Linked DNA regions of Homo sapiens: regions 2, 3, 4 and 5 are each linked to region 1. Evidence: fine-mapped QTL for protein levels in blood plasma. A gene starts in region 1. Each other region holds a variant in brackets. All regions are shown on one strand. Distances are between the middles of the regions.

Evidence for each region. PIP is the posterior inclusion probability: the model's chance that the variant is causal. The UK Biobank Pharma Proteomics Project read protein levels with antibody pairs (Olink). The fine-mapping took linkage between variants from a reference panel, not from the people measured, so its PIPs are less certain.
Region 2: its variant is fine-mapped to the plasma level of the TFPI2 protein (UK Biobank, PIP above 0.99).
Region 3: its variant is fine-mapped to the plasma level of the TFPI2 protein (UK Biobank, PIP 0.99).
Region 4: its variant is fine-mapped to the plasma level of the TFPI2 protein (UK Biobank, PIP above 0.99).
Region 5: its variant is fine-mapped to the plasma level of the TFPI2 protein (UK Biobank, PIP above 0.99).

Annotation. Positions count from the first base shown.
Region 1 is chr7:93,888,220-93,893,326 of GRCh38, forward strand. It overlaps TFPI2 (tissue factor pathway inhibitor 2), which reads right to left and starts at 2,534. Exons shown (of 5, transcript NM_006528.4): 1 at 2,372-2,534; 2 at 1,918-2,100; 3 at 816-1,004. The coding sequence starts at 2,459. It overlaps TFPI2-DT (TFPI2 divergent transcript), which reads left to right and starts at 2,675. Exons shown (of 2, transcript NR_134235.1): 1 at 2,675-2,860; 2 at 5,023-5,107.
Region 2 is chr7:93,969,685-93,974,791 of GRCh38, forward strand. The region is part of intron 1 of BET1-AS1 (BET1 antisense RNA 1); the gene reads left to right. It also overlaps a transcript of BET1 not described here. Among named protein-coding and RNA genes, the nearest start is that of BET1-AS1, 3.9 kb to the left of the region's middle. The variant T/C (reference allele first, on the strand shown) is at 3,014.
Region 3 is chr7:94,062,526-94,067,632 of GRCh38, forward strand. It overlaps LOC130890646 (a long non-coding RNA gene), which reads left to right. Exons shown (of 4, transcript NR_186703.1): 4 at 1,901-5,107. Among named protein-coding and RNA genes, the nearest start is that of BET1, 61 kb to the left of the region's middle. The variant G/A (reference allele first, on the strand shown) is at 2,064.
Region 4 is chr7:94,174,504-94,179,610 of GRCh38, forward strand. No RefSeq gene overlaps it. Among named protein-coding and RNA genes, the nearest start is that of BET1, 170 kb to the left of the region's middle. The variant T/C (reference allele first, on the strand shown) is at 2,352.
Region 5 is chr7:94,389,446-94,394,552 of GRCh38, forward strand. COL1A2-AS1 (COL1A2 antisense RNA 1) reads right to left here and starts at 2,747. Exons shown (of 6, transcript NR_147206.1): 1 at 2,673-2,747; 2 at 1,960-2,088; 3 at 1,183-1,301. The variant T/C (reference allele first, on the strand shown) is at 2,718.

The DNA of each region.
Region 1 (5,107 bases):
TTTCAAGTTTCACCATCTTAATTCTGTATATATTCCACTATCTCACATGTATAACTTATTGTGTACAAATCTGAGGTCATAACATTCATTAATGAATACTTTAATCTTTTATGCATAAATTGAGTAGCTGAGAAATAGTTCTAAAGAAACAATTCAGGGCTGGGCGTGGTGGCTTACACCTGTAATCCCAGCATTTTGGGAGGCCGAGGTGGGCAGATCATGAGGTCAGGAGATCAAGACCATCCTGGCTTACACGGTGACACCCCGTCGAAAGAAAAAAGAAAGAAAGAAAGAAAAGAAAGAAAGAAGGAAGGAAGGAAGGAAAGAAGGAAGGAAGGAAGGAAGGAAGGAAGGAAGGAAGGAAGGAAAGAGAAAGAAAGAAAGAAAGAGAAAAAGAAAGGAGAGAAAGGAAGGAAGGAGAGAAAGAAAGAGAAAGAGAAAGAAGAAAAAAAAAAAAATTAGCTGGGCATGGTGGCGGGCGCCTGTAGTCCCAGCTACTCAGGAGGCTGAGGCAGGAGAATCGCTTGAACCCGGGAGGCAGAGGTTGCAGAGAGCCGAGATTGTGCCACTGCACTCCAGCCTGGGCAACAGGGCGAGAGTCCGTCTCAAAAACAACAAATCAGAAGAGGCAGAAAGCAAAAATTTGAATCATGGCTTTGTCACTTTCCAGTCCTAAGAACTTGACAAGTCACTAACTTGTCAAGTAATGTGAAATCATGAAAATGCACATGTTAATTTCGCATCAAATTGAGTTTTTTCCACCCAAATGTCTTTTCAAAAAAGTGAAATAGAAATACCATAAAAATCGTATTTACTTTTCTTTGGTGCGCAGAAGCCCATACAAGTAGCTTCATCTGGAAACCTGTTCTCAATCCGGTTCCGGTGACACCCACCGGAAAAGAATTTTTCACATGTCATGGAACTTAGATTAAAGAAATACTTTTCTGTGGACCCCTCACACTGGTCGTCCACACTCACTTGCAGCCGGCAAACTTTGGGAACTTCTAGGAAAAGGAGGGTAATAGAACAATGTTAGTCAAAAGTAGCCTTCTTATTAAACCATCACTGTATTTTCAGCAACATTTTGTGGGGGGAGAGAAGTTGTATTAGTGTTGGGATAGTAAATACCCAGAATACTCCCATGAATCCAGATATTTACTTTTTTTTTTTCTAACAGTGTATTCAGAGCTGACTCAGCTGTGATGTATCTTTCAAGTTCAGTAGAAAGACTCTCTGTTTTCTCTGGGTGTTCTCTGATTGTACATATGCAGTGAATCAAAGCTTATTCACATGAATACGCATTTTCCCCTGGCTCAGTTCCTTGAATGGAAAAGCCCCATGTTCTCTTACAGGCCTTAACCGATATAATTTAAAAATTAAAAATAAATTAAAATATAACAGTATTATGAATCTCCACCATGTCCCGCAACTAATCCAACACATGTTTGGGTATCGGGACAAAAGTAGAGTTATATAATGAGCTAAGTCACACTTCAATAATAAAATCCACTAAAAATATTTCAGATTGATGGATAATCGACAGAAGGAAATGATGTACTCCAGGAGAGATAAAAATCATAGGTTTGGAATTAATGAAAAATACAGAGAAGCACTTACGTTGTACCTAACACGTTATTCTCTTGCATTTATTATACCCCATGGTGAGGGAACAAATCTTTCCCTGAGTCCGCACAGGCACTGAATTATGATCAATGTCAGTTGGGAGACAGGAAATGTGTTAGTGGTTGTAAATTTGTGATTACTTTTAAGAAACTGAAAACCATGAGGTTTGCTTAACACTTGAGAAAACCCAGGCTAAAACTTCCTGTAGAAAGCGAGACGTGGGAAACTGGCGAAGCTGCTACCAGCCGCCGGCGCAAGGAGCGCGAGAGTCCTGGGTGCGCGCAGGGCACTTACTTTCTATCCTCCAGCAAGCATCGTCGCAAGCCTCCCAGGTGTAGAAATTGTTGGCGTTGCCCTCGCAGCCCCCGTACAGGAACTGGCGGCAGCTCTGCGTGTACCTGTCGTAGTAGTAACGGAGAAGTAGGGCCCGGCAGGGTCCGTAGTCTAGGGGCAGGAGACAGATCTCCGCGTTATTTCCTGAAGAAGGGGCAGAAGGAGAGCAAAAGAGAGGGAAAGTGGTCAGGCGTAGCTCCTAGGAGGAAAGAACATCCCGGGGAGTTCTGTCCCCTTCCGAGCGGAGGGGCCTCTGCAGAGAAAGTGCAAACTTGGGAGCGAGTCCCCCCTGCCAGCGGAGCGCGCGGCAGGGACCTGGAGAAAGCGAGGCTTGGAGGGCGCCTACACGGGGCCCCATGGCCCGCTGCGCCCTCTCCGCCGGTTGGGGAGAGAAGCTCCTGGAGCGGCCAGATACCTGTTGGCTCCTGAGCAGCATCGCCCAGTGCAGCCTCCGTCAGGAAAAGCAGCAGAATCGACAGCCCCAGGGGGCGAGCGGGGTCCATGGTGCAGGGGGTCGGGCGGCCCGCTGGGCAAGGCGTCCGAGAAAGCGCCTGGCGGGAGGAGGTGCGCGGCTTTCTGCTCCAGGCGGCCCGGGTGCCCGCTTTATGCGGGGCGAGCGTCCGGCCGACCCCCGCCGGGGCGGAGCCTGAGGGGTGGCTGATTCATGCACGGGGACTGTCACCCCGCCGCCCCCGCGCTGCAAACTGTGTAAGAGGGAGAGGAATTCCCCGCCAAGTTGAAAAGTTGAACCTGCCTCCCAAACTTTCTCCTGTAGTCCAGACGGGGACGCCCTGAGGGAGCGTTTGTGTCAGTAATGGGAAATCTGCAAGCTAGACGGAAATGACCTGCTAGTGATTGCGCTGTAAAGAAGCCGGAATCCACCTCTTGAAGGCATGAAGTTCAGGTATTTGAAAGGCTGGTGGAGAGAAAGTGCGGAGTTCTTGGGTCAGAGCGGAGCGGGATTCGTTGCAATGGACCTTCAGATTAGATTAGAAATGTAAATAAGTGTATATTTATATTTATACACACAGATTTCAATCGAGTTCTAATTTACATTTAATACAGGCTTATAATATATCGTAGGTGGACAGTTTGATAAATTTTGACAACTGTGTAGCCACCAATAAAGAATTAGAACATTTTGGCTGGGCGCGGTAGCTCGCGCCTGTAATCCCAGCACTTTGGGAGGCCAAGGCGGGTGGATCACCTGAAATCAGGAGTTCGAGACTAGCCTGGCCAACATGGCGAAACCCCGTCTCTATTAAAAACACAAAAAATTAGCCGGGCGTGGTGGCGGGCACCTGTAGTCCCAGCCCCTCGGGAGGCTGAGGCAGGAGAATGGCTTGAACCCAGGAGGCGGAGGCTGCAGTGAGCCCAGATGGCGCCACTGCACTCCAGTCTGGGCGGCAGAGTGGAACTCCGTCTCGAAACGAAGAAAAAGAAGAAGAAGAAGAAAAAAAAAAGAGTTAGAACATTTCCATCACTCCAGAAAGCTCCTGCAGACTTTTTCCTAAATCAATCCTTCCATCCTTAGGCCAGGGGCAAACACTCTTCTCATTTCGATTACCATAGATTAGATTTGCCTATTCTTGAATTTCATATAAACGGAATTATAAAGTATTCACTGTGTAGTATTTCTTTCTCACACTTCCTGTTTTTGAGATACGCCCAGGTCACTGCATCAATAGTCTGTTTCTTTTAATTCCTGCGTAGTCCAAGGTATGAATTTACCAAAACGTATGAATATCCCACAATGTATAAATATGTTGCTGTGTGTATCAATAGTCTGTTCCTTTAAATCATTGAGTAATATTCTAATATATCACAAATGTCTTATTACTGGAATTTGTGTTGTTTCTAGTTTGTTTGGGGGCTCTTATGAAAAAAGCTGCTTTGTGTGGACCTGCAATTTTTATTACTCTTGGATAAAATACTTAGAAATGTTAGACACTGCCAAAGGATTTTTTCAAGATGATTGTACCATTTTACACCCCAACCAAGCATGTATGAAGCTATGTTTTTGTATGTATCTATGTTTTTGGAGAAGAACCATAGCAGCCCAGAGAGATAGCCTTGGGGAGTTCTGAAGATTTGACCAGATCAGTGTATTCCCACACATTTCCTAATGTCAGTGCATCCATTAAAGTTCCCTGTTCCTTTGACATATTAGCTTGTGATCCACTTTTTTTTTTAATACAAACAATTACCTACAGTGAAATTTTACATAAAATATTAAAGATATTTTTGAAGACATTTTAATATACTTGTCTTCCCTTCCCCTTTTCTCTTGTTGTATTCAACATTCTCAAGTAAATAATTATTCTTGACTTCTGAGGATACTGGGGGTAGTTTACAGAAGTTCTCTTTCAAGTTTTCAGGAAGCCCTGAAAAGTATAGGACACACTTGCTCAAAGTGGGTTAATAATCTGAGGTATTTTGCACATTATATCCTTGTGCCAGTTTTCAGTCATTCTGATGTCATGTTACAAGGTCACAGTCCTAGGAAAACCAGCCTGATCTGGAAATGCTGTCAGCTTTGATTAGCAGATGTCTATGATTAAGAATGATAGTTGAAACTATAAGGATAAATGTTTAATTATCACCTCTCCAGTAGGGAAAAATAAATGGGATGGGGATGCTTTGTATAGTTAACTGATTTCTGTGATGTAAATGTGCTCACTAAGGTCAATTTCAAGCTGCCACTGCAGAATCACTGAATGCCGAGGTGGGAAAAGATCTCCAAGAGCCAGAGCTCCCCATGGCCAAAATCTGTGTGAGCTGGCTCTAATGCACCAACCACTGAGACAGACAGCCAGTTTTGGAATGACACATTCAGAGTAAAGTCAGATTAGACCCTCCCAGTTCCTTCAAAATATTATTAGGGGAGGGAATTTTACCACTCATTTACCGAGAATCATATTCAGGAGAAAAGTTGACTCAACTTCAAACTTACCTATATCTATCTTCTGAATAAAATTAAATATATCTTTAGACTAAAATAAAATTCAAGGACTGATACTCAGTTTTCATGGAGCACTGACTACTGCCATTTCTCTTTGTTCTCAGGTGCTGGACACTTTTTGATTGTCTTTCGCTCATACAAAAAAAAAAATGAACCACTGGACACAATGGCTTCTGCTAGTAATCCCAA
Region 2 (5,107 bases), 81 kb after region 1:
ATTTCAGTTTACAACAGTCAGTGCAATCTCACACGGCATATATTTCTATATTCTTTATTTGTGGCTATTTGAATTATTCATATGTTTAATTTTTAGTCTCTTTATCCTTGATTCTTCAAGATTCTGGAAATGATAATTTGTTCTTTTCTCACCTGGTTTATGATGATTTCAAATGCCCTACTTGGTCTCATTGAATTTAGCTATAAATTTCAAAATTGAATTGCAGAAAACAATGTATACTATTTGAAATCAATCTTGGATAAGTCATAATTACCCAAATATTTATTAATTTGATGAATTTCTATATGCCTTTTTTGGTCTTCACAGAGAGAGTATCAATTGCTAAGTGTTTTTAGTCAGTGGCTCTTTGTAAATGAAATACCTAAATTCACAATACTTCATACAAAATGTGTTACATTAGAGTATTTGCATTAAAGATGTTTTACTCTGCAATAAAATTTTGTACAATCTAACATTCATGAAAGAGGGAAATAAGTGGATTTTGCAAAGAATATTCACCAAGACCTTTGTTTAATAGAGGGGAGAAAAAGAAATAATTAAATACTAGCAGAAAACAGGGTTGCCTCTTTGGGAAATGTACTCATTCAGGTAGCCCCTGGAACATTGGGTAAGTATCTCCTCTTGTCTGGGTAGGTGACAGTGTGTGGAGAAGCTAATGAATGCAGGGCCAAATTGCACCTCTTTGTTTGGTGGATTTTTCTCCATCTCCATTAGCTCTCGAGAAGAAAACACTTATTTGACCTTTTAAGTAGCTAGACTTCAAAATAATTTTAGAATTTGCATATTTTACGCATTTTTTTCTGAACCCTGAGCACATATAATGCAAATATATAGTCATAATTCTTACTCTGTTGCCTTGTTCTAAATAATGAAAGTATTAGAGTCAACTCTTTGAGACAAGGCCCATCTTACATTGACATCCCAAAAATGGGAATAGTGCTCCATAGTAAACAGTTTAAAAATATTATTTGGATTATAAAATGAATTAATTATATAAAGAGAAAATGTGTTCACAAATGTAATTGGGAATAAATGTGTTAAATATTACATAGAATCTGGTTTTAATCCAAAAACGACTCAAACTTATTAATTCGATTTGTATTTTAATTCAACCATTTAGTTTTTTTCTTTAAATATTTCAGAGTGTTAGTAATATACTAGCTGGAAGATGTAGCTAGATGGTAAATTGTCAGAATGAACATAGAAATCTTGGAAAAGACAGACACAGATGAAACAAATATATCTTGCCTGGTCCCTGAATAGGGGGACATGCTATTATCGAAAGTTTTAAGTAGCTGTGAATTACTTATAATAGCAAGTACTGAAGATTGTAATTTATGTTATTATGTTATTAAGCAAATTGCCTGACAGAAAATATTGCAGTATATTAAAACAACTTCTACTGCATCTAACATAAATTCAATAGATTAAAATATATACTGTATATACTGTAAATAATACTTAAGCAGAAATACCTATAGAATACAATATATAAATAGGCACCTTTGTTTCCCTTCACACTTCATTTAAAAGCCCAGACCCCCTTTTAACAATATATCTTGCTAAAAGCAATGTGCCCTTTTTGGTGAAACAGGTACCATATAATGAAGCTCAAATCTAATAGTCATAAATTGACTTACTGTTGTTAATGCATTAGCAAGTAATAAATCCAAGTCCATGCCATCAATACAGGAATTCTGTTCCTGCCTTAAAATTTGAGGACAATTTAAGTCTACAGAGTTTTTCTTGGAATAACAGTTAATGCTGAAATGAAAGTGGCATGCAAATCTCCCAATTCAGGAAGAAAAATAATCACAATATGCTTCTGCTGAATCTAAACAGCCCTACTTCCTTTCACAGTACCTTGTGAGCAGTCCTCTTAGGTGTCAGTAGTAGGCCTAGTAAACATTTTTTGTCCAAGGCTGTCCCTATGTGGCCCCACTTATGCTCACATTATGACTTCAGGATAATAATTAATAAAGCCCACTTTCACTCTCCAAAGTGTCTCGGTCTACATAATAAATTACATAGTTATTATATTATAGGTTAATGTAATACATATGAAATTGTATTAATGATATGGATTCATTACTAATGAGATTTAACTAAGAAAGTTTAAATTATATGGTAACTTTCCATGAAGTAATCTGAATTTTAAAGGTGCAGATAAATGCTTTATTAAATGAAATGCTTTTTGATATTGTACAGCTTTTTCCAGAAACTGCAAGCTTAAAAAAAAAAAAGCCATTGGATATGAAAAAAGAAGCATTCTTGAGAAAATTCCCTAAGGAGAATTTATTTTTTCTTAAAAAGGGGCTTTATTTGAGGTGTCAAGCTAAGATTGTGCTCCTTCCCACCTGGAGAATAACATTCGACATCAAATATTTGGCCAGAATTTTGCTATAGACATTAGCAAGTCATTCCTTTCATCTGTGATTGTATACGAAGTGTTAGCTCTAGAGTGTGAGCTGCCATCCATCAGAGACAACGTTTGCTTCTCCTGTGTAACAATGTCACAACACTGTAAGTTCAATAACATTGCCTAAGTAGTCAGGCAATGAAACCAATATGCATGAAATGCTATCATTGTCGTTGGCTTAAAGGCAAAATATGTTGAACCAAGGCTATTTTCTTATTCAATTAACATTTACAGAAAACCTATTATGTGCCACGCATCTTGACACAAATTTTTTATTTGTTCCTAATAACAACCTGTGAGGTATGTGTTACTTTCCAGATGGGGAAATAGAAAGCCAGAGAGATTAAGTGACTTTTTTAAAGTTACTTAGCTGGTAATTGATGGAAGGTTGATTCAAATCAAGGCTGATTGATTCAACATGTGAGCTCTTTCCGCCCCATTTCTGCTTACATCTCTGGCTCCAGACTTTGATGTTTGGCCAAGAAGAGACTTTTCAGAGTGGTAGAAAGCCATTTCCTACTAATCTAAAATAAGGATTCCTGCATGGAGATAAAATTGAATATTATTTTTTCC[T/C]ATTATTTTTGATAGCCATTTCCTACTATTCTAAAATAAGAATCCCTGCATGGAGATAAAATTGAATATTTTTTTCCTATTATTTTTGAAACATCTTCAACACTTTCCTTAGGGAAAAAAAGTGGGTAGACAGCATCACTCGTATCTTTTTTTTTTTTTCTTCTATCATCTGCCCTTCACAATTCAATGGAGGAAACTGTACATTTCAGTGGGAAGATTCTATTATTCTACTACTGCAAGACAGCCTTATCTTCTGCATATCATTTATTTTTGAAGCTGTAAACTGGCTGAATTCTTTAGTCTTTCCAACTTTAAAACTAGAAATTTTGCTCCGAAATGAAAGAGTATCAGGAATACAAAGGAGAACAGGAAAATCTGAGACTTTTTTCATTTAAGATCAATGAATTATTTGGTTATACAGATATTTGAAGTATAGTTAACAGATATCAAAAAGAAGTCCTGGGTTGCATTCAGTCATGGCTGCCACAGATGTCAAAACTTCACATGTGGGATGAAAGATTGTCCACAGTATGGAACAAGAGAGTTTGCAGTTTTTAAGGATTCTGCAGTCTTACTACTAAGCAAAAGCCTGGCATTTTAGATCTCCTATAGCTGTTGAGCAGAATTGAACAGTCATTCTTGAATCATATTTACTACATTGCTAGCTGATGACTAAAGTAAAGGCTCAAAACTTCAGCTGTATCTAGGAAGGTTTTGGGATCCTCAGTTCCCCGAACTTTTTGAACTACAAAGTGTATATTATTCCCATCCACCAGAATTTAGCTCTGGGGAGACAAACTCTGGAGAAGGAGTTTTCATGAAATAGATTTTCCATGTGAATTACTTGAACTGCTGTATAAAGAACTCAGAAAAAAAAATGTGTATGCATACAAACCATACATTTTAAAAACCTAGTGACTACTGATCATGGGGCGAGAACACAGAAAGACAGATAAGAGAGGTCTATAGGCTTCCCATGTATACCTCAACACCTGGCCTCTGGGCCCTGTGATGAGAAGGCTGAAACACAAAGGAATCTGAACAGGGACACTGCATACAAATACTGAATTATATGCTACATAAAGGTTTTAAAATGCACCAGGCCTGGGAAGAACCCCAACTAGAATACAAACTGTAGCAAATGTATCTAACTGTATTAAAAATGAGTAACAGAACACTACAGGAGGTGTAAAAGAAGAACTAACTTATTTTGGAAAACAATATTTTGATTGAATAGTATGAGGCTAAAGACAAAAAGAACTGCACACAAATAATATACTTTCCTTAGTAAATTTGTTCCCAAATGGGTACAGATTCATATTTCAGAAGCTATTTTCTTTGTATGCTAGGGTTGAAAAAAATACATGCATATATTGAAGAAAATGAGAGTCAGTTTTCTCTTTGTCTATAATAGAAAAGTTATATATAAGAAAAGGGATAGCTAGAATAAACCCTGTAGTATTGGATTGGAATTGTAGATATCAATATGAATTCATCATTTTTAAAGATAAATACTGACATAAACTTAGACATATGTGTATGCAATAACCAGTATAATATATGTATTCTGAAACCATGTTCACTGACAGGTACTAAAAGTAGTGACACTCTGTTAGTAGTAAGCACACCTGTCACCCAGATTTTTGTTTCTAATACCTTTATCTAATAAAAGGAACCAGAACTCCTTGGAGATATAGTTGATTCCAAGGCTGGCACAGAAAATATACAAGATAAGACTTTAGCCCCATGCAGCAGCAGGAAGTACGACAGTGCTCAAAAAAGAATAGGGCATGTTGAAAGGGCACAGGAGCCAAATGGAAAAGATCCCAATGCCCAAAGCTAGAAAAATTTACAAAAAGAAAAAATGTAATTGGATTATAATCCATAGAATAAAGTAAATATCTGTGGTGCCATAGTGATAAAGATAAGTATTTGAGTAGATACATAAATGTAGGAGAAGAGGCAGCTCTTCTTTAGAAAAAGATTCCAATTAATAAGTAAAGAAGGAATGAGGGAAATGGAAAATCACCATTAGAACACCACTAATGAATGCTGAAATTGTTGGGTAAAAGTTTGAGGAGAAATAATATTTGC
Region 3 (5,107 bases), 170 kb after region 1:
TAGTGTCTGCTACTAATCAGACACACTCTAGTTTGTGGTTGGTGAAGCCAGAGAGTGATATCATTTCCTAAGAAACAGGCAAGGAGAGAGAAAGCAATTGAAGGGTGAAGAGCAGAGAACTATGAAGATGATTCAGGAAGAGGCACATGGAGACTAGAGGTAAAACAGAAGTTCTGGGCAGTGAACGAAGACATCTAATACAAGGAAAAGGGGGCCAGGGACTGCGGAGGAAGGAGTAGTTTAGATTTGATCTTATTTGCACCCACAGACCAGTTGCTAAGGGTCCAACTTTCTCAGGGATTAGATTTAACAGAGATAGAAAGTTAGTTTTCGAAGAGAAATCTTATTTATTAGCTAAAGTATGTCCAGTTTAATTATGTAATGAAGATGAGTATTTGTCACTCATTTATTTGAGTATATATTTTATAGATAACAATGTACCAGAGTGTAATAGAAAGTACCTTACAGTATAACTGTAGTGATTTGAATGGCTTGTCTGAGAAGGATGTGGAAAAAGGTCCCATATCTCTCAATATTAGTACCCAAGTCAGCCTAAAAAGAAACAAAACATTGTAAATATCTTGGTTCCTAGTAACAGAAGAGATTTTAAACACAGAGTCACCTAACTGAGTGGAATATTTTTAATTTAGTATCAGCACCCTTTCCTAAAGATGCTATAAATTAAGAACTCTCTGATTTTTTTTAAGCCATAAGTGTTAAAGAGTAATCTATTACAAATCAAGTTCAGTCCCACTCTTGATAACATTGTGTTTTTAGACTAATTTTGCAGGTAGAGTGGGGCATAACTCACCATAGTTTTTTCCTTACAAGCTGTATTAATTATTTTAAAAATAGCAAACATCATGAAAAATAGCCCAGCCAAATACTCATTTCTTTGCTTAATGTCTCATTGCTTGGCAATTTTCTTCACTGTCATTTTCAATGGAAAAATACCTGAAATTCATCTACTGAAATTCAACTGAACGGAGTGGTTTAAAAAGAATCAATAGACATGCTAATAATAAGGAAAGCATTCAAATGCAATATAGCATATGTTTCTAATTACCACTTCACAAGTCCCAGTTACAAATTAAGTCTCTTTTATTTCAATTAACAGTCTAATGGTGCTTCAGAGAGATAAAGAATGTTTTAAAAAGAAACCAAACCTCTGATGAAGAGCACCCAATTTTCTCTCCAAGGAAACATGATGAAGGTTTTAAGCTATGAGAAAAGTCTGGGATAGGTGATTTGGGAACTGTATTGTCCATCACAGCTAAGAGATGTAGATGATGTTTTTGGTTTTTGGTTTTTGTGCTCCCCTTCCTGGGACCTTCTCAGCCATTCTACTGCCCACTTCTCTTCTGATATCCTATCATGGGAGAGAAGTCACCCAGCTGGCCATGCATCTATACAACAAATATTTACTAAGCACTTGCTTTGTACCAGCATTTAAGTACTTGGTCATGAGGATTCAGTGGTATATAAGATCTAGTCCCTTCTCTCAGAAAGGTTGTTGTTTAGTGGGATAGACAGACATATAAGCTAATAGTTCTAGTGTAATGTGTCTATAACAATAACAGAATGAAAACATCTATAGTAAAGATTGATAAGTTAATTTACTCTAATGTGTTACGTCATTTTACCCAGAAGTTTTTAAATGAACAGAAGAATATATATACATATATTCTCTTTCTTTCTCTCTGTGTCATTTCTATGGGTGAAATTTCTGGTATTTGTGATTAGGATGATGAGATATCTGATACCCATAGAGGTGACCACAAACTCTGTCCATAAAGCTGAGCTTGTTATAAATTTTAATTTCAACTCAGGGCTGGATAAATTCATAGAATGTTAAGGGTTCAAGGAATTTCACAGTGTATCTTATTGATTCATTTTACAGATGAGGACCCTAAGACCTAGAGAAACTAAGTCATTTGCTCAAGAAGACAAAGGTAATCATCAGAAATCAACATGAGATTTCAGCTCTCCTGATCCTTAGTACAACATGTGAAAGAAGATATGTTGTCTTTACTCACAGTGGAGGCATTTTTCTAGCTGTGTTT[G/A]ATTTGGCTTCCCTATAGATTCAGGACCCATAACTCTTGTTCTCACTCATCTGCTATGCTGCTGATAAGGACTTTCAGGTCAACAGCTGTAACTGCTAAATGAAGTTAATACTCTGGAAAAAAAAAAAAAAAAAAAACCAGAAGGAACAGAGACCAAAAGATTGAAAGCCATTTGGAAATTTCTTGAGTGGTGTCTGGCAGGTCTTTTATGAAGATTATCATAAACCAGGAAAAAAAAAAAAAACGCCTGCTGACTGTGTTATCTGTAGTGCCTATTGCCTATTTTGGCTGATTCATTGATGGTGTAACAGATAACAGAATGAAAGGAAATGGTTTGGTTTCTATAAAGGAAAAAGAATGGTTTGTATAAGGAAACCATTAGTTTCCTGAGATTGCTATACCAAATTATCAAAACTTGGTGTCTTAAAACAATAGAAATTTTTTCTCCCACAGTTCTGGAGGCCAGAAACTCAAAATCAGTATTTGGCGGCTGAAATCAAGGTGTTGGCAGCACCCTCTGGAGGCTCTCGGACAGAATCTGTCCCTTGTGTCTAACAGATTCTGCTGGCTGCTGGCATTCCTTGACTTGTGGTCGTATCATTCCCATCTCCTCCTCCATAGTCATAACGCTTTCTCCTCTTCTCTGGCATTTGCATCCCTTTTATAAGACACGTATGACTGCATTTAGGGCTCACCAGGATAATGCAGGATAATCTTCCTATTTCAGGATCCTTTGCCACATCTTCAAAGTCCTTTTTGGCCAATAAAGTAATATTCACAGGCTCCAGGTTTTAGGATGTGGGTAGTGGTGTTGGGGTGGGGGGCAGATTTGGGGGTGAACAACCAGCCTACTACTGGTGGGTGACTGGTTATCCATCATTCTTAAGTCAGAAATGATGACCCAAAATCTCTTTTTGCTTTTGCTTCACTCATTTTGCATTTAATTACTAGGCTCTGCTTCTTCAGACACTTTTATTACAGTTTAGTTTTTGCTACATCCCTCAAAAATGTCTTATTATTTTCACGGCCTGTCATTTAGTTATGTTTTCTTCTAAGTGTTTGGCTGTCTTGGTCAGTGCTCTAAAGGAATTAAAATCACTTGGTCAGGGCTCTGAAGTAATTGGTCAGTGCTCTGAAGTAATTAAAATCACTGTGAAGCTGAATGAAAAATCAGAAGAAGAATCAAGAGACCTATGTTTTGCTTGTTAGGAGAACTGTGTATCCTTTATGTCTATTTTTGGAGTTGGTGGTAATTTCTGGTCAAGGAATCAAATGTTCTTATTCCTAACCATATAGTCAGATAAGATGGCTAAGGTGCTTTCATAATCACCATTGATTCACTGTCAGATGGGCCCGTGCTCTGTGACAACTTTTCAATATTATAGACTTTACCAAATAAAAAGGTATCTCCTCATTCTGTGCACAGAAAAAGAAAATGATGGATGAGTATATTAGCCAGAACCCTGTCGCAGAAAAATAAGCATGAGTGTGCCCTTTCATGCCTCCTGAGAACTCCTGTGCTAGACAGAGCCTGTTCAAGATGTCTTTTCTGACTTTCTGATTCCAGTTGACATCTAGGCATATAAGGCAACTTTGTGATGGGGCCAGAGAGCACCACACATTGTTGTGTATGAAATACTCTATTCAGCAAACAAGCCGTGCAGCAACAAGACCTAGTGTGGTCAAGGATGGTGGACTAAAAACCACTATGAAAGCAGAGATGTAGCCACCTCTGAGACTGGTTTTCTAAGCAGGATGACTTGGTTCCATCCCTACAGGCATCGTCTGGTCCAGTTCAGCACAGAGCTAGCTGCAAGTGACAACCTAAGAGAAAAGTCAGCGAGAACAAAGATCCATCTCTTCGTTGACTGCCTTAATCCCTAGAGCTGTGTTCTTCAATTTGTTACTATTTGCTACAATTTTTCTGCCTAACAAGCAAGTTCTATCCTGCCTAGGAGAGAAACTTTTAGTAAATTCATCTTCATTCACTACTATTCAGCTCATGCTGTAAAAACTTAGATAATGCTGTCTGAAATACTTAACTCCTGGTCAAATGCAGCTGCTATTTCATTCAGTATAATCAAAGAATAGCCAAGGACTTTAGTTAATATTTCTTCAGATGATAGAGAATAAACAAATTGTTTTGGATATATCTACCATGCCCTCCAAACATGATTGTTGATATCTTTTCTATATAAATTACTTTCCTACATAAATGGTACTTAGCTTTTCCTTGAAAGATATGCTCTTCTCTCCAGCTCAAAGATAACCCTCTTTCCCTCAAATTATAAGTAATTTATATTTAATAATCTTTCATACGAATTTTTAAAATTACAAATGGTAAGGTACCACTATTTTTTATTTTGTAACAGCACAAACCATCAAATCAGAAAAAAAGAAAGGTTGAGTATGATCTCTGAAAAATGAATTCTAGTAGCATGTATAGCAAAAATCATCTTAGAATGAATAGAAGCCCTGAATAACTCAATGACCACCAGGCTTGTCTGCATCCACGTTCTACTTGGTTAACTGTTAAATAATATCTAACTTGTTGCATTGTAAAAACAACATGTGTCTGTAAACTGAAAAATAGATGTTATTATCCACCTGGTTTAGTCATAATGGAGAAATGTCCTTCAGTTGCATGATGCTCTTCCTATGAATGAGGAAACCAGATCAACATTTCCATTCAAGTTCTAGCTTGCCTATAACATTTCTTAGCTCCTTTTGCAAACCAAAAGTGGCAGCAGTTGTAACTGAATTAGTCTAACTGCTCAGACACATGCATTTCTGTTTGGTTGCTCTGGTCTCTTCTTGAAGGCCAAGTGCTGTGATCATTTATCATCATCAGAATTGGCTGCCATAACTCAGTGTTCCCGGGACCTGCAGTGGGCAGAGCACCAGCACAACCCGTAGAAAGCAGCTCCAAGATCAGCACCCTCTCATAAACCTACCGAGCCAGGAGCATCTTCCAGGCCCTCCACTCTCAGGAGTTTCAAGGAGAAAACAAAATGCTGAGGACTGGGAATGAGAAGCTTCAACCT
Region 4 (5,107 bases), 290 kb after region 1:
ATGCATGTATTGTCTGAAATTACGCACTGTTAAAGGAAATAGATTAAACTTGATGAAAGCAAGGAAAAGCAGGCTGTACATACAGAATTGCTCTGGAGATTTCCTGTTTGTCGGGTACTATAGCAGTTCCGCCATCCATCCCTGGAGAGAGCAAATTCACAGAACCTGAAGGGGAGACTAAAAAGGGCTCTTTTTGACCTTGGATAGTATTTCATCCCTTAAAGACTTAAGAAAGACTTGACATTTGGGAAGAAGTCATCAACAGTGCGGGGGCCCACTCACATGCCTCTACCACAGGTAAAAGAATGAGGTTAATAAGCTTGTCTCATGACTGTCAGGTTCTGTCACAATTGTCCCTAGTCTTGAAAATACAGCCATAGCAGATTGCAATAAGTACATTGATATGGTTTGGCTCTGTGTTCCCACCCAAATGTCATGTTGAATTATAATCCCATAATCCCCAGGTGCTGAGGGCAGGACCTTGTGGGAGGTGATTGGATCATGGGAGCAGTTTCCCCCATGCTGTTCTCGTGATAGTGAGTTCTCACGAGATCTGATGGTTTTATAAGTGTTTGACAGTTTTTCCTATACACACTCTCTCTCACCTGCTGCCATGTAATACATGCCTGCTTCTCCTTCTGCCATGATTGTAAATTTCCTGAGGCCTCCCAGCCATATGGAACTGTGAGTCATTTAAACCTCTTTCCTTTATAAATTGCTCAGTCTTGGGTATTTATAGCAGTGTGACAACAAACTAATATGTACATTTATAAAATTCTACAAGATATATTTAAGGAAACAACTGAAGTTAATTTTACTTATTCCTTTCAGAGTTTTTGGGGATGTTGGAATTGTCTGAGGATTTGAGCAGGGCATTTGAGCCCTTAGCCAGGACTCTGTTATTCGATCCCATGAGAACGGACCTAGCACTGTGAGAAACACATTTCCTCCTTTTAATACTGTAGCTGATTTTTAAAAAGGGAAAAACAAAAAGTAATTTTTTTACATAGTTAGAAGAGGAAAAGAGACATATTGGCAGGAAGTAAGCAATACAATATAGTTTTTTTAACACCTGTTGTGGTTATTTATATGATAACCAAATTTACCAAATACCAAATTATATGATGACTAATTTAGTAAGGCCCAAATTACAGTGTCCAGTATGATAGCTATATTTGCAAATATGGAGATAATAAGATGGCTATATGAAATTTGGAACATGCCTGAGCAAATAATATTAACAAAGAACAAAACTTTATCATCCAAGCTTAGAGCAAGTAACTTTCAGATATTTTCTAGAAAATGTATTTAGCATGTCTGCAAATTTTATATTGATTTACAAAATTTTCAGAATCAGCATTCAAGAATTCTGTATTTTGGTACATAATTTCAGTCCTCTCAATACTTGACTCTTAGGCTCATGTAATAGCAAGAGTTCTTGTATGACTGAACTGATTATAGCTCTGTTCATTACTAGCTTTTTGAAAATCTTAGGCAAACCTCTTAACCACTCTGCCTCAGTTTCTTTCCTTTGTGAAATGAACAATAATAATTCCTATCCGTAAAGTTAGGGTGAGGATAAAACAAAATCTACAAAACTATTTGAAAAAGAATTAAGAGAAAAGAAACAAAGTATTATTTTCACACATAAACCATTTGTTAGGGTGAGGATTAAGATTCACTCAAAGCCATCTCAGCCCATGGTGTGGTGCAGCTGGGAACATGACTGCATAAATATATCACCCATTACCATTTCTTTTTCTTCCTTTATCTCTTAACAAAATATAGCTGGCTTTTCTGGCTTCTTCCATAGCTTCTTTGGTAATCATCATATTCCAAGTCCTTTTACTGACACACTGACACATTCTTCTCCTAACATTCTTTTCAGAGACACCCTTGTTTATCCCTTAAGTTTTCTTGCACTTGATATAACCATGTCTTCCTGGTCTCTGATGCTGATCACTGCACTCTGATAAGTAAAATGACAAGAATACCTTCCATAAATTAAAAAAAAATGGGGTTCACTGTTAACTGATTTCACATTGAGAAAAGTTATTCTGATGTTTTCAAAATTGCTTAGTTCTATTTCAAAATTCAAAACCAGCATAATTTTAAGTTAGCTGAATAGGGCATCTGGATATGTAGGCATATTTATTTTTGAAAAGGGTTAAGGGCTTGATAACAGAGAAGGCAGAGTTCCTTTCTCAAATCTTAAGCAATAAATCCTTCACAATAATTTATGATAAGAACCTTAACAAGGGCAGTGACCACAGGAAGAAAGAGAAGATATGACAGGCAAAAAAAGTCCTATGGAAAATGGAGTCAACAATACTGATTGCAACTGTAAAAAT[T/C]GTTGACTCCATTTTCCATAGGACTTATTTTGCCTGTCATATCTTCTCTTTCTTCCTGTGGTCACTGCCCTTGTTAAGGTTCTTATCATAAATAATTGTGGAGGATTTATCAGAGGATGGGAAAGCCAGATGTTTCCTAGATAAATAATTCAATAGTGATGTTGTCAACCGTGTAGAGAATGCTGACCCCTCAGCATCTAAGCTAGTAAACCATGGCTGTCCTTCAGATACCAGTCTCTCTCTAGAACCTCCACACGTTTGTATTTGCTGGGCCCTTTTGTAGTACGTATTACTTTTCTCTCTCCTTTTCTCCTTAGAAATCTTTTTCATAGTGATGTCGGAAGTTTTCATCTCTTTTAGGAAACTTTTTTGAACCATCCAGCAGCTACAGATTCCCTTCTGTTGCTTCTTGACCTGCTGCTTCTCATACTCCTGTGGTAGTACCTGTACTTTGTATTATAATTGTTTGCAAGTTCATCTCCTGGTCCTCAAGGACAGGGCTGTGCTTTGCACATCTTAATGCCCTCAGCACAGCAAACAATTCCAGGCATGTGATATAGAGTCTACAGATTCTATAAATGTATACCAAAAACATGAATGGTAGGATAATGAGTTAGGCTTGTTTTCTTGAGCATGAATGGAGAGATACTAATTATGTAGTTAAAAACATGAATCAGGAACACAAGGGGAAAGGATATTGAGACAGGCACACAGATATGAATGTGGGATTGATTTAGGTCACTGAGAAAGAATGGGTGTCAGAAAAAAATAAAGATGACTACAGTCGTCTTACAGAAACCAAGAGGAGAAAATGTGCCAGATGGAGGAAGTTGTTAATAGTGTCAAGCAAAGCTGCTTCCTTCTTTATAAAATGTGAAATATAACACTTAATACACAGGAATATGTTGAGAACTAGATTGGATAATATATGGAAAATGCTTAAAACAATGGCAGGAACAAAATGGTTACGAATAATCGTTTCAAAATAAAATACAATAATAATTGAAATGACAAAACTAGATTTGGCAATTAGGAAGTAAGTATATGGTAATGACCACCATAGGAACAGCCTCGTTAGAAAGGAAGGGGCAGAAGCTTAATTTCTGTGTGGTGAGCAATAAAAATGGAATGGAAAAATAAAACAGCAAGTGGATACTTTCCACTTAAAAACTACATTGATGAAGGACAGGAGAGAGCTTGGGAGCTTCTGGAGCAGACAATATTGTGTAAGAAATGTTAGGTTGTAGAAAATGAGACTTTTGAGCACGTATATAGCAGAAGAGAACGAACCAATAGAGAGGAAGAAATATTAGATCAGGGGAGGACAGAAAAGAAGGAGCTATGGAGGGGTCCACACAGCTTGGCATTCATGGAAAATTAAGGGAGGTTATGGGGGTTCTCCCTTTTCCACAGGATGGGAGATGAGGTTTCCTGATAAACGAAGGGCTTAAGAGTAGTTCAGAAGTTTAAGAGAAGTCATGAATATGTTGAGTAGTCATGAGAATGAGAACGGAAACTGAAAAGTGAGAATGGAAGAAAAAGAGAGAAATTATTAAACTGCATTTGTGACTGTCAGTCCTTGCCTGCCTTGGTTTTACCCATCTGACCACAAAAACTGCCTGCTACCCACAAGGTTAGTCCCTCATCACTGAGAGTTCCTTTTTTCCTACCGGGGAATAGAGGTGAGTCCAGAGATGAGCTGTTGTTGCCCAGAGCCAAAATCAGCAATGGGCAGAATGCTGGGCACTGAAAGAATTAATCCATTGCTGCCCACAGAAATGAGCCAAGTGGAAACATTTCCAGTGGGTCAAACAAAATCAAGGTTAACATTACCCGGATTCAAAGCACGGAATTAAAAAAAAAAACTTTAAGGTCATTTTAATTTAAATGTTATAACCTGGTATCTTGAATATGAAGTTCCAGGCCTCCAGAAGGTGATACAAGAAATCAACATGAAGGCATCAAAAAATCATTTCTAGCCATAATTATGGGAAAGTAATTTTCATGTCTTTTGCTGCTTTCAAATCATTTTAGTTTTCAGCAAAAGCTCTGCCACCAGCTCTTCTGCCTCCTTTCCACAATAACTTTCTCATGCTCCCACTACACCCCATCCAACCAACTTCAACCAGGGAAGATTAAGGAAGAGTCTTTCTCTAAGTCTCTCTCTCTCTCTCTTTTTTTTGTTTGTTTTTTCAAGTTTCCAATGTCAGTAGTACCTAACTAATTAAATTCAAGATAAGGTTTTCGAGAAATTCTTAAGAATGGATGAAATAAGGTAGGTTTATAAGGAGACTGTGACCTGTGCAAGGAGTAATCTCCCGATCCAGACATTCAAAGGGCCCAGGGTTCCTTCTCAGGTGCATCCAGACATTGGTTCACCACCACAGGCCCAGGAACTTAGCCCACTTCCCTCTCCTTTCTGGGGGACCAGTACCCTCTCTATGACTTGGATTTCTGGGCCATCCCCCTCATAACTGGATATAAAACAGGTCACATTCTTTTCAACTCTTCCCACCTTCATCCCTTCTACCCACTTTCCTCATCCTTTCTTTGCTACCACTAAAGACTCACACCAGATATACTTACATTTAAGTGTCGTACTGCTTAACATTAAGAGGCAAATAAACAGGAGGTGATCAACATAATTAATCAGGGGGTGACACATTTTAAGGTATCTCACAAAGTTCTTACAATGTGTATCCCTGCTCTGTAATTCATGACTCATGGGTTGAGGTACTAAGTGGAAGCTTTTGGGC
Region 5 (5,107 bases), 500 kb after region 1:
TTGCCTTGATGATTTTCCTCTTCTGTTCATTCTTTAACATTGGAGCTCTTCAGAGTTTTGTCCTATGTTTGATTGTTTTCTACTTTCACACACACATATAATCTGGGAGATTTCATCACTCCCATGACATCAGTCATCTGATGACTCCTTTATCCATAAGTCAAGGCCAAATAGAGATTGTGGACTTGAGGCCTAAGTATCTAATTATCTATGAGACTTCTCCTCTTAGGTGGCCCACAATCACCCAAAATTGAACATGAATTGGCCTCTTTATCCTCCCCTCCCCACCCCAAGCTATCTCCTCCTCAAATGTTCCCCAAGTCACTGGATGGCACCTCCAGTCATCCAGTTGCCAAAGCCAGAAACTGGCAGTGCTCCTTAAGTCATCCCCTTGAATTCTTCCTCTCTCTCTCTCTCCCCATTACCAAACATCAGAGCACTTTTCTTCTACTTCTGAAACATTTCTATAGCTCATCAACTTCTCTTGAGCTCCACCACATCTATCCTAGTTCAGGCCACCATCATTTCCCCTCAGAATTCCTGCTGCAGTCTCCTTACTGTTCTCCCTGTCTCTACTGTGCTCCCCTTCTAATCGTTTCTCCACACTGCAGCCCCAGTCATCTTATTCAAAACACTCTCTGGTTTCCTACCCTCTCTGTTTAAAATAATCTAAACACTCCCATAGCACACTTGAGAAAACACAAACACCAGAATACAGCCTAAAAGGTCCTTTTTGATCTGGTCCCTGCCAAAACCACCAATCTCATCTCTAGCTCCTTCCTCTATCCTCCCTCTTTTCCACCACAATCCCATCGTACTGAAATGCTCCATTCCTCAGATTGCCAAATTTTTCAATGCCTCTGTGCCCACACCACTCTCACACCTCTTTTTAAAATTTTGTTTGTATTTAAGGGTTGAACAAGGATGTTGCATCCTCCAGGAAGCCCTCCTTGATTCCACTTATCTGAATCTAGATGAGGTGTCCATCCTAAATCCTCCCATAAACATGTAAGCATTCTATTCCTCCATTACAGTATTCATCACACTCTTCTCTATCCTCCAACAGACTATAAGCCCCCTGAGGGCAATGACCTTGGCATTCTGTTTCATAATTATATACCCACCAACCCAGTAAGTGCCTGGCATAACACTAAATATTGCTTGAGTAAACATACATCTTACCAGCTGGGCGAGGTGGCTCATGCCTGTAATCCTAGCACTTTGGGAGGCCGAGGTGGGTGGATCACCTGAGGTCAAGAGTTCCAGACTAGCCTGGCAAACATGGTGAAGCCTCCTCTCTACTGAAAAATAGAAAAATTAGCCAGGGGTGGTTGTGGACACCTGTAATCCCAGCTACTTGGGAGGCTGAGGCAGGAGAATCGCTTGAACCCAAGAGGCAGAGGTTGCAGTGAGCTGAGATCGTGTCATTGCACTCCAGCCTGAGCAACAGAGCAAAAACTCTGTCTCAAAAAAAAAAAAATATATATATATATATCTTGACTCATTTAAATAATCAATGGGAACTGAATATCCTAATTGATATGACACAGAGCAGGAATCTCCATGCCTTTCAAACAAATATCACAGAAAGAAATCAGCCCTTGCTGGGCACAGTGGCTCACACCTGTAATCCAAGCACTTTAAGAGGCAGAGGCAGGTGGATCACTTGAGCTCAGTTGGAGTTTAAGAAAAGCCTAGGCAACATGGTGAAACCTCATCTCTACAAAGAATACAAAAAATTAGCCTGGCATGGTGGCATGCACCTGTAGTCCCATCCACTAGGGAGGCTGGGGCAAGAGGATCACGTGAATCCAGGAATTCGAGGCTGCAGTGCCCCCAGATCATACTACTGCACTCCAGCCTGGGTGATAAAGTGAGACCTTCTCAATAAATAAATAAATACAAAATTAAAAACCAGCACTTAACTCTTCAGCTACCACATTAATTCTCAGCAAATACCTTCTTAGCAGTCGTTTGACAATCAAGTCAACTAGAACTGGAACTAGAATGAGATAACATGGTATTGCTTCTTCTCACAGAGTAGATCCTCAATGAATGTTTGAAAGGAGATGTCAGTCCGATGTTTACCTTTGATCAAAGAAAGGAATATAAGATTAAGACATCAGGGCCTCGTCAGGCTGTTCTGCATTTCTGTATTAGCCAGACTCTCAACCATTTTCTTGCCATATATAAACATGTGGCCCAGTTTGTAATCAGTGGGTTATAGGAAGCTAAAGAAATTATCTTTTCTTTCATAGAAAATAATTTGGGCATAGGAACCCAGGTATTAACCGTCTAGCACCAAAGTTGTAGGAATCTTTAGTCTCCTCTGCCTCCCTTCTTCCATCCCTCTACTCTCAGTCTTGACCCCACCCCACCCCTTACTTGTTTTTCCTTCTACTCATTTTCTCCTCCCTCCCTCTCCCCTCTCCCCACACTAGAACCATCAGGGCCCTCACCAGGGCATTCAGTTCAGGTTCTGGGTCAGCTCTCACAGCTCTACCAGTCCCACCCCCATCCCCAGGAAAAACTGCTCCTTATTTGGAGTCACAAAAATATTTAACAGAGATCTAACTGACCACTAAAAATTCCTCCTTTAAAACAAACACCTAATCAACTATTTTCCCCCAAGTTATATGGAAAAACAGCTGCAATTAGAACTTGATTCTCACTTTAAGAAAGAAAGATTCTTGTTTGGTTTTCTCCACTTTCATTTT[T/C]TGTTTCTAGGTCCAGGGCCTCCCACCAAATGCTGACGGCTGCCTGCTTCAAACCCTGCCACATCAGCAGGGAGGGAGCACAGCGGCATTTGGTATTTGCATCAGTTTCCAGGAATGCTTTTCAAGTTATCAGTTCACTCTGCTGCCTTTAGCAGAGACGTTTTCCCTCTAAGTTTATAGATGTCTGCTTCAATTTACAGTCCTCTAATTCTCAAAAACTTGCTGAGGATTTTTCTTTTTTGGCTAAAAGAGAAATTATAATCACACTTCTAAAAACATTCTATGTTTTAAACTATTTTGACAACAACAACAAAACCTACAATGAAATGTTTAAAACTTGGGATATCTATTGCAAATCCAATGATTGAGCCAACTTGACCCCAGAAGCGTTATCAGATAACCTCACTGAAGGGTATTTGGAGGGTTTCTTTCATAAATCTGTTGCATTACCACCCTGAGTCATTTTGCTCAGAATTAGTCTCTGACTCTCAGCAACACAGGACAAATACACACATATGCCCTGCAAAGGTAATTCAGCACAGTGGTAACAATGATTCTTAGAAATCATTTCTCACTCTTCTGATATGCAGAAAAAAATTTGTTATGATGTAGTATTGAAGTTTTTCTTTCCTGATAAAAATGATTTCCACTTTAAAAGTTTTTTGTTAGTTCTGTAACGGTGATATTTCAGGGAAATGTTAAAAATGTTCTTGGAATATACAATTCAACCTCAGGTCTTTTGTTGTTGTTGTTCCTAGAACCTAGAAAACTTCAAACATTGTTGCCTAGTTAGAAAAAAATTTGAATGTGGATTGCTCCCTGTAAACCCCCTTCTAGGAATGACCAGTAACCCTTTCAAATTCTTTCACTCCCAGTTACTTCAAAAAATCATCCAAAGTGGTCTCCCAAGTGAGTGCCTTTAATTAGAATAAAACAAGAGTTTATTATAGTTTTTGGTTATCCACTTTTACTTGCATTAACCTTTTTTTCTTCTTTTACATTTAGAAAGAGTAACCTGCTTTAGAATAGTCCCTTTTATTTACAGAAGCTGCTGATGGAGTTAACTTCTGCAGAAATTCTTCCTTAAGGCAAAGCAAAAAAAGCGGGGAGGGGGTGGGGGGAAGGAAGGGAAAAAGATTCTCAGGGAACTACAGCCCACTTGCTTCTGTTTCTTAGAGACAGAACTGACCTAAAGATGCCCCCTTTGCGATGACTTCTGGGATAGAGCAGCACTCTAACTAGGCCCCCGCTGCCTCATGGGGACCTTAGGCAAGTAGAGGAGAGGCCTGACACACACACACACACACACACACACACGCACACGCGCGCGCGCGCACACACACACACACAGCCTTTCAAACCTAGGGCCTGGAATGCCATCCCAAGAGGCTTTAGAAAAAGGCACAGGACCTTTGGCCTCCCACCTCAGGGTCAAAGTACCAGTTCCTCCTCTCCCTAGTAGGGAGTGGAGGGTTGGATGGAGGCGGCCAGAGAAGAGGGAAGTTGGGTGCTGGGGAGAGAGTTAACATCCACGTTGGTGGGCGCACTGCTTGGGGTGTTACCAGCGAAGACTACGAAGACCCCAAGCTCGAATCAGAAGGGCCTCTGGATGTGCTAGGGGAGGTGCTTGGGTGTGGCTGTAAGAGATGGGACAGAGAGTAAGCAGCAAGGTCAAGAGGGACCGGGGGGCTCACGGGAGGGTTGAAGGGTCCAGGCTCAGGGTAGAACTGGTAAATCCAGACAAGGAGCCCATGGAGAAGGGGAGGGGAGACTGGAAACCATGAAAGATCCCCCACCGCAGCCTCAGAAAGGAGAGACTGAGAAATAAGTTCTCGGTCTCCAGGTCGGTTGGAGTCGTGTCGGAGTGCCAGACCATCCCCCAAAAGACCCTCTTTGGAATGAGCCTCAGCAAAGGCAAGCTAGGAGGTCGAAGGACTTCCCCAGGTGACTCGGTCTAGTCTAGAGTTCGCAAAGCCTATCCTCCCTGTAGCCGGGTGCCAAGCAGCCTCGAGCCTGCTCCCCAGCCCACCTGCCAACAAAAGGCGCCCTCCGACTGCAACCCAGCCCTCCACAGACAGGACCCGCCCTTTCCCGAAGTCATAAGACAAAGAGAGTGCATCACTGCTGAAACAGTGGGCGCACACGAGCCCCAAAGCTAGAGAAAAGCTGGACGGGGCTGGGGGCGGGGTGCAGGGGTGGAGGGGCGGGGAGGCGGGCTCCGGCTGCGCCACGCTATCGAGTCTTCCCTCCCTCCTTCTCTGCCCCCTCCGCTCCCGCTGGAGCCCTCCACCCTACAAGTGGCCTACAGGGCACAGGTGAGGCGGGACTGGACAGCTCCTGCTTTGATCGCCGGAGATCTGCAAATTCTGCCCATGTCGGGGCTGCAGAGC